3 separate regions of the Homo sapiens genome follow, and regions 2 and 3 are each reported to be linked to region 1. Evidence: microRNA targets listed by miRTarBase, many of them from high-throughput screens and not tested one by one. Region 1 holds a microRNA gene; each other region holds the end of a gene's coding sequence.
The links. Region 1 holds the annotated microRNA hsa-miR-148a-3p (UCAGUGCACUACAGAACUUUGU, at 2,763-2,784, opposite strand). A microRNA usually pairs through its seed, bases 2 to 8, with sites in the 3' UTR of a target mRNA and lowers its output. Matches are read on the target gene's strand: a 7mer-m8 pairs with bases 2 to 8, a 7mer-A1 pairs with bases 2 to 7 and ends in A, and an 8mer does both.

Region 1 (5,483 bases):
GGAAGATGTGGTGGGAGATTATATAAAATGGGGAATCAGTGACCCAGCACCATGGCTTCCCAGCTCCTCTGCACGCCCCCCCATATTTCCCAACCCTTGCATTTGAAATTTAAAATGTTCTTTAAAAAATTAAAGGCTTTCAGTGTTGAGTGATAGTCACGCACTGCATAAGGATATTTCAGTCAACAATGGACCAAATATATGACAGTAGTCGCGTAAGATTATAATGAAGCTGAAAAATTCCTACAGCCTAATGATGTCACAGCTGTCATGTCATAGCATTTTTTTTAAATATAGTGTAGCCTAAGTTTATAATATTTATAAAGTCTACAATAGTGTAACGTCCTAGGCCTTCACATTCACTCACCACTCACTGACTCACCCAGAGCAACTTCTAGTCCCACAAGCTCCATGCATGCTAAGTGTCCCATATGGGTGTAACATTTTTTACATTTTATATTGTATTTTTACTGTACCTTTTGTACGGTTAAATAAATCCTTACCATTGTGTTACATTTGCCTACAGCACTCAGTACAGTACCATCCTGCACAGGTTTGTAGCCCAGGAGCACTAGGCTATGGCATACAGCTTAAGTGTGTGGTAGTCTCTACCACCCAGGTTTAAGAACACTCACTCTGTGATGTTTGCAAAAACAATGAAATCGCCTAACACCACGTTTCTCAGAACCTATCCTCATCATTAAGCAATGCATGACTAAAGTTTCAGCTGCACCTGTTTGGTTCATTCACATAAAGTATCTAAAATAAAGACAGGAGTGCCAAGGCCATGCAAAGTAGGTTGCTAGTGATGGTTTCCTTTGCCCAGCGATCTGGGTTAAATGAACACCACGGCCTCCCCAGCGTTCCTTGTTCTTCCTTCCCTGACGTTTATCACCCTTCTGATTATTTTATATTTGTATTGTCTACCTCTTGCATGAGAAAGACCTCCAAGAGGGCAGGGTTCGGGGCCTATTTTGTTCACTGTTGCATTCGTAACGTCTAGAGTAACACCTGATGCTCGGGAGGTGAAAATACACTGATTGCTAAACGACTGAGGTCTATGAGACCATGCCAGGTTTACAGTAAGCACCCCAAGACTGCCGATTTTCCCAGTTCCTATTCCTGGCATCCTTAGCACCAGAGTAAACCACAGCCCTCCTGCTTGGTTAGTCCTTAACTCACTTGTGGTCACAAACAGGAGAAATGCAAATCACTTAAGCATAGAAGTCAAACCAGACTGAATCATGTCAGGGACTCCAAACCTTGCCTTTCTCTGGAGGTGAGAGATCCTGACCTAATTCCTTTGTATGGATGACTACTCTCCCAGTCAACCGCTCCACTCTTTACCTCCCATTCTCTTACAAAGTTGATTTAAGTTTTCTTAAAATTCAGTATATTCAGACTATCTTGTGGAGATGTACAGACATAAGAACTAGGAAAGAGAATCCTCTTCCTCAAGTAAGCATACCTTACATCTCAAATGAACACAAGACGTACTTGAGTTTGGATCACTTTATTTAACTGCACAGAAATAATTCAGCCATTTTTGGGTAAAGGATTGAGGAACAAAAGCAAAGCAGTCACTGATGGAAAAGTGGGAGAATGGATAATGGCCACACAAAAGAGAACACATGCTGCCTTAGGATCAATACACAGCATTTCTGTGAAAAGCAACTGGTAGGTCCTGCCATTAAGCTCTAACATCAAGCAGCTGAATACTTTCTCCCTCATTGAGCCTTCCTCCATTATCATCCCTCTCCCGATGATAAACCACTGGAATATACCTAAGTAAAAAAAATGGTGGCTTTCTTTACCAAGGGCTTCCCAGAGACACAAGCAACCCCCAGGTTTCTGAAGCATCCCATAAAATACATCAGAAGGCCCTTCCCTTACCTGTCAGCACCACGGGCACAGGAACCATTTCCTTTTTTCCCTACCACCCTGCGTCCTGTGCCTGGCCAAAAGCTCATAAAACCAAAACAGGGCAATGTCCATGGAACAGGACTACAATTTGGTGCCAGTCACTGACCCACTATAGAGAGCAGGCTATTGATAGAAACTCACCAACCCAAACCTCCATTCCACTAGGGATGAGAGAGCAGTCTCTCCACCTAAAGGATCTCCACAGCCCAAAAGCATAAATGTCCCCCTCCCCCAGTGGCTTTCAAAATGCTTTCTTGGAAAAAGTTCTTCCTTTCCATTAATAAAACTTACTTTAAAAAACAAAAGTGAACTGCATCTAAATCGGAAGCAGAATTGAGACTAGATCTCCAAACTCAATCCCTGCAGGCTGTCATTTATCCAGCAGGTCGCTTGAGTAAAAGGACCATTATCTGTGGCTTTTGTACAAATACATTTCCTTCTTTAAGGGTAGAGAGTTTAAATTCCTGCAAGGCACTGCACACTAACACACCCATTAATAAATCTGCAGCTCTCCTGGCTCAGTTTAAGTGAGGCCAGTCTTTCAGTACCTGTTAAGCAACCTTGAAAAGTCCAAAGCTTTATTTTTTTCTTCTTTAAACCAAAAAATTCTACAGTCAGGAGTCCACCAGGGTAAGATGAAGAGATTTGGGGGGATTTTGTTCCCATTTACAGGGTTTAACCCACCCGCTTCAAGGGAATTGGTCAAGTTCCTCGTGCTGCACTTGGACCCCCTCTGGCCTTGCCCCTCCCCCAAGGGAAAGGCGCAGCGACGTGGCCACCAGGGCCACTCGGCCTGGCGTCTGGAGCACTGGCGGCATCGGCGACCACAGCCTCTAGAGACAAAGTTCTGTAGTGCACTGACTTCTATCATACTCAGAGTCGGAGTGTCTCAGAACTTTGCCTCAAAAGACCAAACGTGCTGTCTTCCTCCAGAAGTTTCTTCCTGCAGGTGTGTTCCCCCACCCCCCAGCTAAGACAAAGAAGAATAACTCGTTAAAAGCAATTTAGTTCAGGATGCGACCGATAATGGAACGGGTCATTAATTATGGAAAGTTACTGCCGCAGTCAGCAGGAGCAAATGCCCAACAGAAATGGTGTTTTAACAGCCCGATTCGACAAATTCTGGTCGCAATGTCACAGCAAAGGGGCTGCAAGAATCGCACACTCTCCTTCCTTCCTACCCGTCCTCAGATTAGAACCCATTCCTGGTCGAACCCTCACCTCCCTCGGTAGTTATTTAAACTTTTGCCAGCAGCTAACTCACTCTAACTTGTGGCAACTTTTTACCTTCCCATCTGGAAAGCTGGGGGCGGGGGCGCTGCACGAGGACGAATATTCGGAGCTGAAAGAGTTAAACGGTGGGGAACAAATACAGGCCCGGGAAAAGCCCCTAAGATGGGACGACCCAAGAAAGACCCGCTTTGCGGGGCCTCCCCTGAGACCCCCTTCCCCAGCCATTCCCAGTACTCTATTCCCGGTCTTCCAGCCGCCCGCGCCCAGCCCCGGGAACTCGGGTCGAAGTCGTCCCATCCCCTCCGTTCCACCCACCCACTCTTTGGGATTCTCCCTGCCCCATTAGGCAGTGCTTCCCGCGGACCCCGTTCGCGCACAACCTTGCACACAGTCCCCAAGACTGCTCTTCTCCCCCTCCCGGCACCCCCTTTTCCCTGCAGCATAAGCGACCACTCTGTCCCCCATCCTAGCAGACCCCCTCCCCCCACATACCGCACCTGAACAGCTGTTGCGCGCGTGCAACAGGTCTGGAAAGTGCTTTCCCATCTTCCCCCAAACCCCTCGCCACCGTTCCATCCCCCGCCACCCCTAAGAGACAAGGCCGGAGGGGCAGTGGGCTGCGTCCCCCGGGCCGGGGTGCACGGGCGGCTGGCGGAGTGCGGGGCGCCCAGAGGCTCCCGGGGTTGGGGGCGGTGGTCGCGCTGGGCCGGGACACCTTCGCGAGTGGCCCCTCGTGCGCCCGCCGCAGGCTCCCCAGCCTGCCCCTCCAGCGCCGGCCGCCAGGCATTCCCGGGCCGGCTCCCCCCTCGCGCTCCGCTCCGCTCCCTTCCATCTTGACTTTTGCCGACGTGGAAATTTTGGGTTTGGAGACGACCTGCGCTCTTATTGGCTGCCGGCGGGCGGGGTCGGAGGTCACGGCTGCTCTCGCTATTCCGCGCCAAGGGGAGCCGCACAGCGGCTCGTGTCAAGTCAGCAGGTTCCCTCCGCCTCCCCCGGGGTCACGTGCGCCCCGGGCGGGCCCGGGAGACGCCTCCTTATGCAAATAGAGCGGCCGCGCGGGGCTGGGGGCGGGGGCGGGGTGGGCGGTGGCGCGTGGGGGCGGGGGCGGGGGCGCGGCCGGCGCTGGGAGGGCGGGGCGCTCCAGGTGGCCACCTGGCTCGACGTCCCGCCCCGCCCTTCTGCCCACCAGCCTCTGCCAGGCTGCCTGTTCCGCTTCCCGCGACACTCGGGCCGGGCGCTGTCCCCGGCCAGCCCCGCTGGGCCCAGGGAGCCCGCGTTTTGCAAGATGCCCCTGAATGCCCGCTTTCCCCGGAGCCCCCTCCTCCAAACCCAGCCGGAGCCCTGCCTGGGCCCGGTGTCTCCTGGCTGGGGAGGAGGCGGCGGCGAAGCTGCTGCAGGGCAGAGTGCGAAATGGAAACCTCGGGAGGACAGTTTCCTCCCCTGGCAGGGAGTTGAGAACTAAATGCGAGATTCCCGGTAAGGGAATTCTAGGACAAAGCAAAATCAAGAATTCATCAAGGTTAAAAGTCGTTTCTTTTAATAAACTGCCCACCACCCATCCCCAAATAAAAAGAGGCCAAAGAGCTAACTAAAAGTAGTAAAAATGCCAGTTCTGGATTTTTTTTTTTAACACGTCTACAAGGACTAACCGAAAGGCCGGTTTGCCTCCACCCTGACGTCTGCTGGGTACTGGGCACCCGAGACTGAACCAGGGGACACGTCCTCCTCTCCTCATCTAGATGGGGGTGTGACTCGGGGGAGCTCAGAATTCCCTGAGAAGAGGTCACGGGCACGTAGAATCAATTTTAACGTGGTTCCCCAAGCACGCCAAAGAAGATGCTGTTCTAGAAAGAAAGGGAAATTGATGAATGGCCACGTGACCAGGATGTCTTCCTTCCTTCCCTCTCCCCAAGGAAAAGAAAGTAACTGCATTGCAAAGGTAGAGCCCATGTTATAAATCGGACTCTCTGATGCCGGCCTGTAGTCACCAAGGAAAAAGAAGGGGACTGCATTTTAAAAAATATAAATATTTCTGAGAACTGGCCTAGTTATTTTTTCCCTCAGGTAACAAAGTATGTGTATCATCTTTATAATGGTTGCATCTGAAGTCTGACCTGGTGATACAGAAAAACATACATTTTTATGGGAAGATTCTTACCTGGAAAATTCTTCCCATCCACTCTTCTTAATTTACTTTCCTTCTCCCCATTTCCCCCTATGGAAAGATAAATCATTGCTCCTTCCAACTGTTTTATCCTCAAGGATCTTTCTCTCCACTCTCCTTTCTCTTCCCTCTCCACACTTGTTTGTTTATCTGACCATTCGCG
Region 2 (4,159 bases), not on the chromosome of region 1:
TGGTAAAGCTGAGGGGAACGTGCCAGAAGCTTCAGGAAGATGGAGTATGCCCAGACAACAAGGACCATGGCTTTAGCTAGAAAAGCTCTTTAGGAGAAGGGCAATTCAATAGGGCTAAATAGATTGACTAAAGAGCTGGCTCTTCTGCTCAAATTCTAACCCACTAAGAAGACATGTGAGCCCTAAAGGAGACTGCAAACAGCCTGCTCTACATTTTTATGTGACTGATGTGCCATTTTTGTGTTTTAATTAAACAAGTTTGGTGCTGTCACAGATGCTGTTCATTGTCAACCCAATGGCCATTGTTTAACCCTTTTCCCAAGCAGGTAGAATCTTTCTCCTGCAAAGAGACTGAAAATGCTGGATATTCACTCTTCCAAGCCCCCATGACTTCTGGGGGTGGCCATCCAACATCATTCTAGCCAATGCAAGTAAAGGGGATATTTCTCAGGGGTGCTGGGAAACATTTTCTTCCCTGATAAACAGACCGACAAGTAGAGTTATCTTGTCACATGACTGGGCTCCTTTCTTTCTTCGTTTGAGCATGATGGGATGAGGATGTGATTCTTGGAGATGCTGCAGCCACCTTGTGATCATGAGGGAGAATCACTGGCATACTGAAGATGGTGGAGCAAGAGCATGGGAAAGCCTGGGGGCTTTGAGACCACCAACCTCTCAATTTCTTATTATTTTTAATCTTAATAAACCCCTACTGATTAAGCTTCTTTCACTGGGGTGTATTGTTGGTTGCATTCTAATGTATCTCAATGGAAACAGTTGCCCAAGGTAAAATCAAACAATCTCATATAAAATGAAGATTCTTGACTTCTCTTGGGGGAATATGTGTTTGGGCTGGGCGCTGTGGCTCACACCTGTAATCCAGGCACTTTGGGAGGCCGAGGCAGGCGGATCATGAGGTCAGGAGATCAAGACCATCCTGGCTAACACAGTGAAACCCTGTCTCTACTAAAAAATACAAAAAATTAGCCGGGCATGGCAGTGGGTGCCTGTAGTCCCAGCTACTCAGGAGGCTGAGGCAGGAGAATGGCGTGAACCCAGGAGGCCGAGCTTGCAGTGAGCAGGGATCGCGCCACTGCACTCCAGCACCACTTCCCTGGGGTGTGTGCTTTTAGTCTTCCACAGTCTCCACTATTCCTTAATGACCCCACTTGCCTCATTCACTGTATTCTCTTCCTAGTACCTCAAGGTATCTGAGCTTGTGGCTGCCGATCTCTAACATGGACTCTGAGTAAGTTTACTCAAAGAGGAAGAAATTCCGACATCCCACAGCTCCCAGGGTGGGCTCGGACTCTTCACACTGTGTGTAACCTGCTTTTCCAAAGAGACTGAATTAGGAACCCCACATCCAAAAAAAAATCAGGGGTTGAGGAATAAACGTTCTCATTATGGCCATTTAATTGGTACACTGTGATGTTATATTTACTTCACGTGAATAGAGCATGAAATTGAAACATAAGGATCTGTAAAAATGCCTGCCTTTTGTGAACTGGCTTACACTGTTCATTATGGCTCCTGAGGATCCTACCACCAGCTTCATGTTATTACATCATCTGTAATTTGAATTATATTTTAATCAAAGCTTTTACATGGCCAGTATTAGGATTTTCCATGTAATTATCAGCATTAGTAATACTCTGTTGTTACTTTGCAGAGTACTTCCTGGCCATTTATCTTTAAATAAAATTATTTATATTAAATTTACACTTGATGGTCCAGAATTTTAAGTCTTTATTAACTGAAGTACAACCCTTTTCCTTTCCTCTTGCTCAGATAAAACTAGAATCAAATAAGAATGTGGGCCACATCAGGATGGGGTTTTTTTTTTTAACAGTAGCAAAGGATCTTTTTCCTACATTTCTATTTTGGGCTTTATTTTTGAAAATTATAGAGTTTTTAGTTAAATTAGAGTATTGTTTAATTTTCTAATTTTAAATGAATTTTAGCTCAGAATTTAAAATTATGTCTTTTCAATTGCTATGATTTATCTCTTAAAATATCTCACATTCATCTTCAAAGTTGCTTGCCAATGTAACTGCTATAATTTTTAAAAAATCAATGGCTTGACTTTGGATGAAAGTCAATTCAAGCCTCCCCCTCTCCCACTCCATCCAGGGGACAATCACATGACCGTGCCAAAGCCAGTTTGGAAGGACCAGGGCTGGAGAGGGCTGCACTGGGGCTCATGGAGCATAGTCAGTGGTACATGCACTCCAAGCTTAAGCCCATGGAGCTTAACAGAAATGGCTGATCAAAGATATTCTGATGCTTCTAACTTGCACACGCAGCCCAGGGCTGATAAGCTGACCATTTAGGCAGCCACCTGAGTCTCTCAAAATGCAGTCTGTTATGCTAACTGCCCAAAAGCAACACTCTTGGCCAGGTGCAGTGGCTCACGCTTATAATCCCAGCACTTTGGGAGGCCGAGGTGGGCAGATCACTTGAGGCTAGGAGTCCGAGACCAGCCTGGCCAACGTGGTGAAACCCCGTGTCTACTAAAAATACAAAAATTAGCCAGGTGTGGTGGCGGGCACCTGTAGTCCTAGCTACTTGGGAGGCTGAGGCACGAGAATAGCTTGAACCCAGAGGCAAAGGTTGCAGTGAGCCAAGATCACGCCACTGCACTCCAGTGCAGTCTCGACACAGCGAGACTCCATCTCAAAAAAAAAAAAAAAAAAGTGACACTCTGGATAGCAAAGATGCATCACCTCGTAGCACCCAGGCCCAGGAATCTGAACAACCACATGGTACATCCAATCAGAATTGGATGAAGGGGATGCTCCTTGCCTTGAAAAAACTAGCTGGCCAAGGAGCAGCGTGCTCTATACTCAGACTGAAAAAGGTTCATATTGACTGGCTGTATTCAACAATGCAAAGAGCTGAGCGAGAGACACAGCACATTCCTGATTCTGTTCTTGTACCTTCTACCAGAGTCCTATCATGCTGAAATATTGCCAGCTAGATAGGAACAGGAACACACCACCACTTGGAGAATCCTTAGAGCAGAGCTCTGCAAAACTCAGATCCTAAAGGGGAAAAATTCTCAGCCTGAAGTTGCTTCTTATCCCCAATGGCCACTCAGCCACTCCCTTGAGATGAGCCCCAGGCATGCGGTTTCTGATCTGTGAGATCGGTCACATCACTTCTTGCAGAAGAGCCAAGTAAAGCCCCCGTGCCCCAAAAATTCACTGTATGAGGCAGAGCTACAGAAGTGGCTCCATAAACTTAGACTGGAAGATGGGAAGGATATTGTGCCCATGAACCCTCAGGCAACTGCTGTGACCTCATCCCCCACACATGCACTCATGCATCTTCATGCTCATTGTGTTTGGTGGAAGTCTGTGCATGAAGTTATTAATTTTATTTGCTTCCAGATTCAATGATTCAAAAGCCCTGGAAATGCTCAAGCTGTCACTCCAAGTTTCAAATCTATTTTAGAGACGTGGGCTATGAGAAGCTGATGGCTCAGAAAGGTTCTGAGCCTTTGCTTCCAAGCTCAGCACCTGGAATGACCTACAGACAGAGCTGGCTTTGGGTCTCTGAGAAACCTGCTGCATCTCCAAATGACTTGTTGCGCTGGGTGGCCAACACCAAGTCTTCCACGTGGGAGGTTTTATTATGTTTTACAACCATGAAAACATAGGAAGGTGGCTGTTACAGCAAACATTTCAGATAGACGAATCGGCCAAGCTCCCCAAACCCCACCTTCACAGCCTCTTCCACACGTCTCTCAGAGATTGTTGTCCTTCACTTGCAAATTCAAGGATGTTGGAAGTAGACATTTAAAGTAGCAGGAACACCATCAGTGAAACAGAAGCAGAAGTACGATGACTTTGAGAAACAACTGATGAAAAATACACTACAGAAAACCATTTCTATTGTGTTATGATGTCAGGGTGGCAGATGTGCCCAGGGCTTAGTGTCCATCCTCCCAGGACACTGGTCATACCGGGCCTTCGGTGATCCCCTCCAGAGGCAAGCTGGGTGCGCTGTCAGCTGTGGGCCTCTCCTCTTTCTTCAGTGAGGCTGGGACTCGCAGACTAACGTAGGGTTTATGGCAAGCTGTGTTGGCCAGAGGAGGATAGTGCTGTCTGTAGCAAATGTATGCAAAAATGAGGCCGATGACTCCACCCACAAAGGA
Region 3 (4,159 bases), not on the chromosome of region 1:
TAAAATGTAAATGTGGATATGGCTTGGATTACTAAGTGGTTTTATTTCTTCATTCACCTGACATTTGTTGTGTACCTGCTGCAAGTCAAATACATGGTATGATATTGTTTCCTTGTTCACACCACAGCAAATGAGAAAATGAGACATTATAGCCAGGTGTGGCGGCACAGGCTTCTCGTCCTAGCTACTCAGAAGGCTGAGGCAGGAGAATTGCTTCAGCCCAGGAGTTTGAGGTTACAGTAAGGTCTGATATCACCATTGCATTTCAACCTGGGCAACAGACCCTGTCTCTGAAAAAAAGGAAAAAGACACTGTGAGCTGTCTACATGTACTCTATGTCTCAGGAGACTCATGTGCTGTAATTTTTCTAAATGGCATCTCCATGTGGTCTTTCATGAATGTTTGTCTGGTATTTCTTTTCTATCTTTTTACTTTCAACTTTTCTGTACCTTCTACTGAAATTATGGCTTTTGTAAATAGCCTACGGTTATTTATTTATTTACTTATTTATTTTTATCCCTCTGCACTATTTGTCTTGTAATTGGAGTGTCTGAGTCCATTACGTTTAATGTCATTGTTGACCTCATTGGGTTTAAGTCTGTCCATTTTCATTTACTGCCTTCTAATATTATCTTTCTTGCTCAACTATTTTTCTTCTGTTGCCTTCTTTAGATGAATAAAAAACTTTGCATTATTGTGGTCTTCTCAGTAAGTGTTCTAGTTACAAATTCTCTTATTATTTCTTTAATTATCTGAGAAAGCACAATAATCTGTGACTTATTATAACCAACAGCAGACCATAACTTCCCTGACTTTCACCTACCTGTGCAGACAGCACAGGGGAGAATCAATGCTCTGGCTCTGAGACACAGGGGTGGTGGAAGTAGGATAGTGATTGGATGATGAATCTGTAGCTGCAGAGGCATCTGGGCCCCTCACCTTCATTCCTCGTAGATGTCACCTCCACTGGATGCCTGCAATGCCCTCTCCTCTGTATGCTCCTGCCAGAGTCTCCCCATCTCCATTGACAGCAGCTCCACCCTTCTGCTCACTCAGTCCAATACTGTGGGTGTCCTTGATTCTTCTTTCTCACACCACAGATAAATCCATTAGCAAGTGCTGTGAATTCATCCAGAATCCCATCACTTCCCACTATTTCCCCTGCTCACACCCCAGTCAAGGTAAGCGACGTCTCCATCCTGGAATACTGCACTCCTTTCCCACCGTTTTTCCCACTGCCTCACTAGTCCCCCACCTCTCAATTCTGTTCTCAGCACAGCAGCCAGAGAGAAGCTTTCAAAGGATAAGTCCTACCATGTCCCACTTTCCAAAACTGTCCTCTAACTCCCCATGTCATTCAGAGCAAAGGTCAACATCCTTCCCACACCCTCCAGGGCAACCTGCTCTGGGCACACCTCTGACTTCATTTCAGTTTCTCTCTGTTCAACACTTCTGGCCTCTTCCTCCTTCCAGGAACACAGACAATTTCCTGCCCTAGTGCATCTGCACTGAAGGTTTCCCTGCCTGAAAAGAACTTTCTGAGACATCCGTGTAGACAACTCCTCACATCCCTCAAATCTTTACTCCAAGGTCACATTTGCAACAAGGCCCATGCTGACCACCCAGCACAACAGCCACCTCCCTGTACCCACAGCCCACCCTCTGGATCACCTGCCACACAGCACTTGCCACCTTCTAACTCAAGCATTTTCTGTTCCTACTCTGCTTATACTATATCATCTGCCTGCAGAGGTGTCCAATCTTTTGGCTTCCCTGGGTCACATAGGAAGAAGAATTGTCTTGAGCCACACAAAAAATACACTAATGACAGCTGATGAGCAGAAAAAAATAGAAAAAAGAAAAAAAATGCATGGATAATTTTCATGATATCTGCCACTACAGATAAGCAAAAAAATCGTCACATTCTAAAGCTGTCCTGGGCCACATGCATCCCGAGAGCTGCAGGTTGGACAAGCTTGCATCTAGAATGTATACACGACAAGGCCAGAAATTTTTCTGTTTTTACTTTAACGATGTTTTCTAAATGCAAAAACAGTCAAATACCTAGCAGACAACAAATGCCACTTGAATGGATGATTACTGTAGTGCGCCCCCCTATTCTAAAGGCAATATCTTTATTAATGTAGACTCAGGCCAAATGTCATTTTGTAGCCGCTGTGGAACAATATTATCTCATGTGGATATAAATGCACCAGTGCTTTTCTCACCAGGGCTGCTTTTGTGTCCTCCCTCCCTCCCTCCTCCCACACCAATCCTCCTGCACACTGCAGCACACAACCATATTTGTCTCTTGAGGAAAGATAACCCAAGGCTTATGGCTCCAATTATCCAACCACATATGAATCTAAATTAGACTCTGCTTTACAAATCCATGAGTTTGGTTTGGAGCCAGCAATAGGATTACTACAACTCAGGGCAGGAAGAAGAGTAGGAGAGAGAGCAGAAGAGGAGTTCCAACAGAAAGTAAACTACAATGAAAAACTCTGGGACCTCTCCTCTCGGGAAGTTTCAGAATCTGCTTCCTTTAAGAAGGTTGGGGAAGCCAGGCATGGTGGCTCACACCTGTAATCCCAGCACTTTGGGAGGCAGAGGCGGGCAGATCACAAGGTCAGGAGATCAAGACCATCCTGGCTAACATGGTGAAATCCCGTCTTTACTAAAAATACAAAAAATTAGCTGGGTATTGTGGCATGTGCCTGTACTCCCAGTTACTAGGGAGGCTGAGACAGGAGAATTGCTTGAACCCGGGAGGTGGAGGTTGCAATGAGTTGAGATTGCACCACTGCACTCCAGCCTGAGTGAGGCTCCATCTAAAAAAAAAAAAAAAAAAAAAGATGGAAAATACAATTGAAAGAGACCTGGAAGGAGGGGAAGAGGTGTAGGGGTCTGAAAATTTTTCTTCTGATAACACAGGAACTTCTACGTGTAGGGACCATCCTAGGTGATATCCAAGTCTATGTGATCACAGGTCCTGGTGGGACAAGGTTCTACTGAAGGGCCAAGGACAATGGAGCAGCAAAGATGACCCAGCTGAGCAGTGACCACATAAAGTTCATGGTGGCCTGAGCACCCACTGGGCGCAGCCCCATCTACTCTCCTCTCCTGCAACAAATCAGCACAAGAAACACGTGTACTGTGGAAAGTTCTCATGTCTTCCATTTATTTTGTCTCTCAAATTTCAGGAATCTTCTCCTTTAATTAACCCATCAATCTCTCTTGGAAATAATTTGAAAAAGTAAATTTATACTCAGATTCTAATTTTAATACAGAAGTAAGTTATAGCTCAGTGGACCACAAATTTGAGACAGAGACGGAGACATCCCAGCCCCTTTTCTGGAACAGGAAAGGTGATTGGGGAAGGAATGCAGTTCAGCATGAGGAAGAGGGTCATGGTGGGCACAGGGGTGGGCTGGTCTCTGCACAAAGAGGAGTCAGGGTTCTTGAAGTCACAAAGGGACTTGCCACTCAGTCCCACACAGGGCAGCTGTTTCACACTACAGAAAAATATTCATGAACAAATTCATATCAGTCACAGTGAGGGGTGACACTTTAAACAGCCCATCACATGCTCAATACATTGAAGTCAAAGAAACCTCATAGCACAGCTATGTCCCCTGTTCCCCTCAACAACCCACACACATCAGGCCCCCCGGGGTGTCACATTTACAAGCCGTGAGAGACACATTAGAGCCCTGGGCACTGTCACTGCCTAGAGTAGAACAAAAACAGCACCTGGTCAGAGACCACAGGAGATGTGGCCAGAGGAGGAATTGTGGGGTGGGTGAGCTCCCCCATGGGCTCCCAAACACAAGATCCCAAGGATCTCAGGGATCAGCCTCCTTCATACTTACTTGCAGCCTGAGAGTAGCTCCCTCCTTTTCAATCTGTGGGAAGAAAATGTCCTGTGAGAGGCCAGAAAGGTGGCAGGGCCATGAGGTCCTAGAGGAACCTCCTAGTCTTGGACCCTCGAGAAGTTTCCAGAAATGTGTGACTGCAGACCCAGGGCGGGATCAGGAAAAACAAGGAAAGCAGATGTGGGTCCTCGACCAACTGCCCTCCTAAGGTCTGTCCTTAGCCAGGGACCTTCTCCTGACCTGTGATTACTGGGATCAGGTCCCCATCACTACAATCATCAAGG

Region 2: miRTarBase lists PLPP4 as a target of hsa-miR-148a-3p. Seed matches in the 3' UTR shown: 7mer-m8 at 2,646-2,652.
Region 3: miRTarBase lists HLA-G as a target of hsa-miR-148a-3p. The part of its 3' UTR that is shown has no 7-base or 8-base seed match.

The regions. Positions count from the first base shown.
Region 1 is chr7:25,947,160-25,952,642 of GRCh38, forward strand. It overlaps MIR148A (microRNA 148a), which reads right to left and starts at 2,827; the gene lies at 2,760-2,827. All of the region lies in intron 6 of LOC105375199 (a long non-coding RNA gene), which reads right to left. RefSeq lists an enhancer at 868-937 and silencers at 3,781-3,920, 4,051-4,270, 4,391-4,600.
Region 2 is chr10:120,589,305-120,593,463 of GRCh38, reverse strand. It overlaps PLPP4 (phospholipid phosphatase 4), which reads right to left. Exons shown (of 7, transcript NM_001030059.3): 7 at 1,399-4,159. The coding sequence ends at 3,962. Among named protein-coding and RNA genes, the nearest start is that of LINC01561, 6.6 kb to the left of the region's middle.
Region 3 is chr6:29,830,124-29,834,282 of GRCh38, reverse strand. HLA-G (major histocompatibility complex, class I, G) reads right to left here. Exons shown (of 7, transcript NM_001384290.1): 6 at 3,873-3,905; 7 at 3,262-3,515. The coding sequence ends at 3,901. It also overlaps the pseudogene HCGVIII-2. Among named protein-coding and RNA genes, the nearest start is that of HLA-G, 4.4 kb to the right of the region's middle.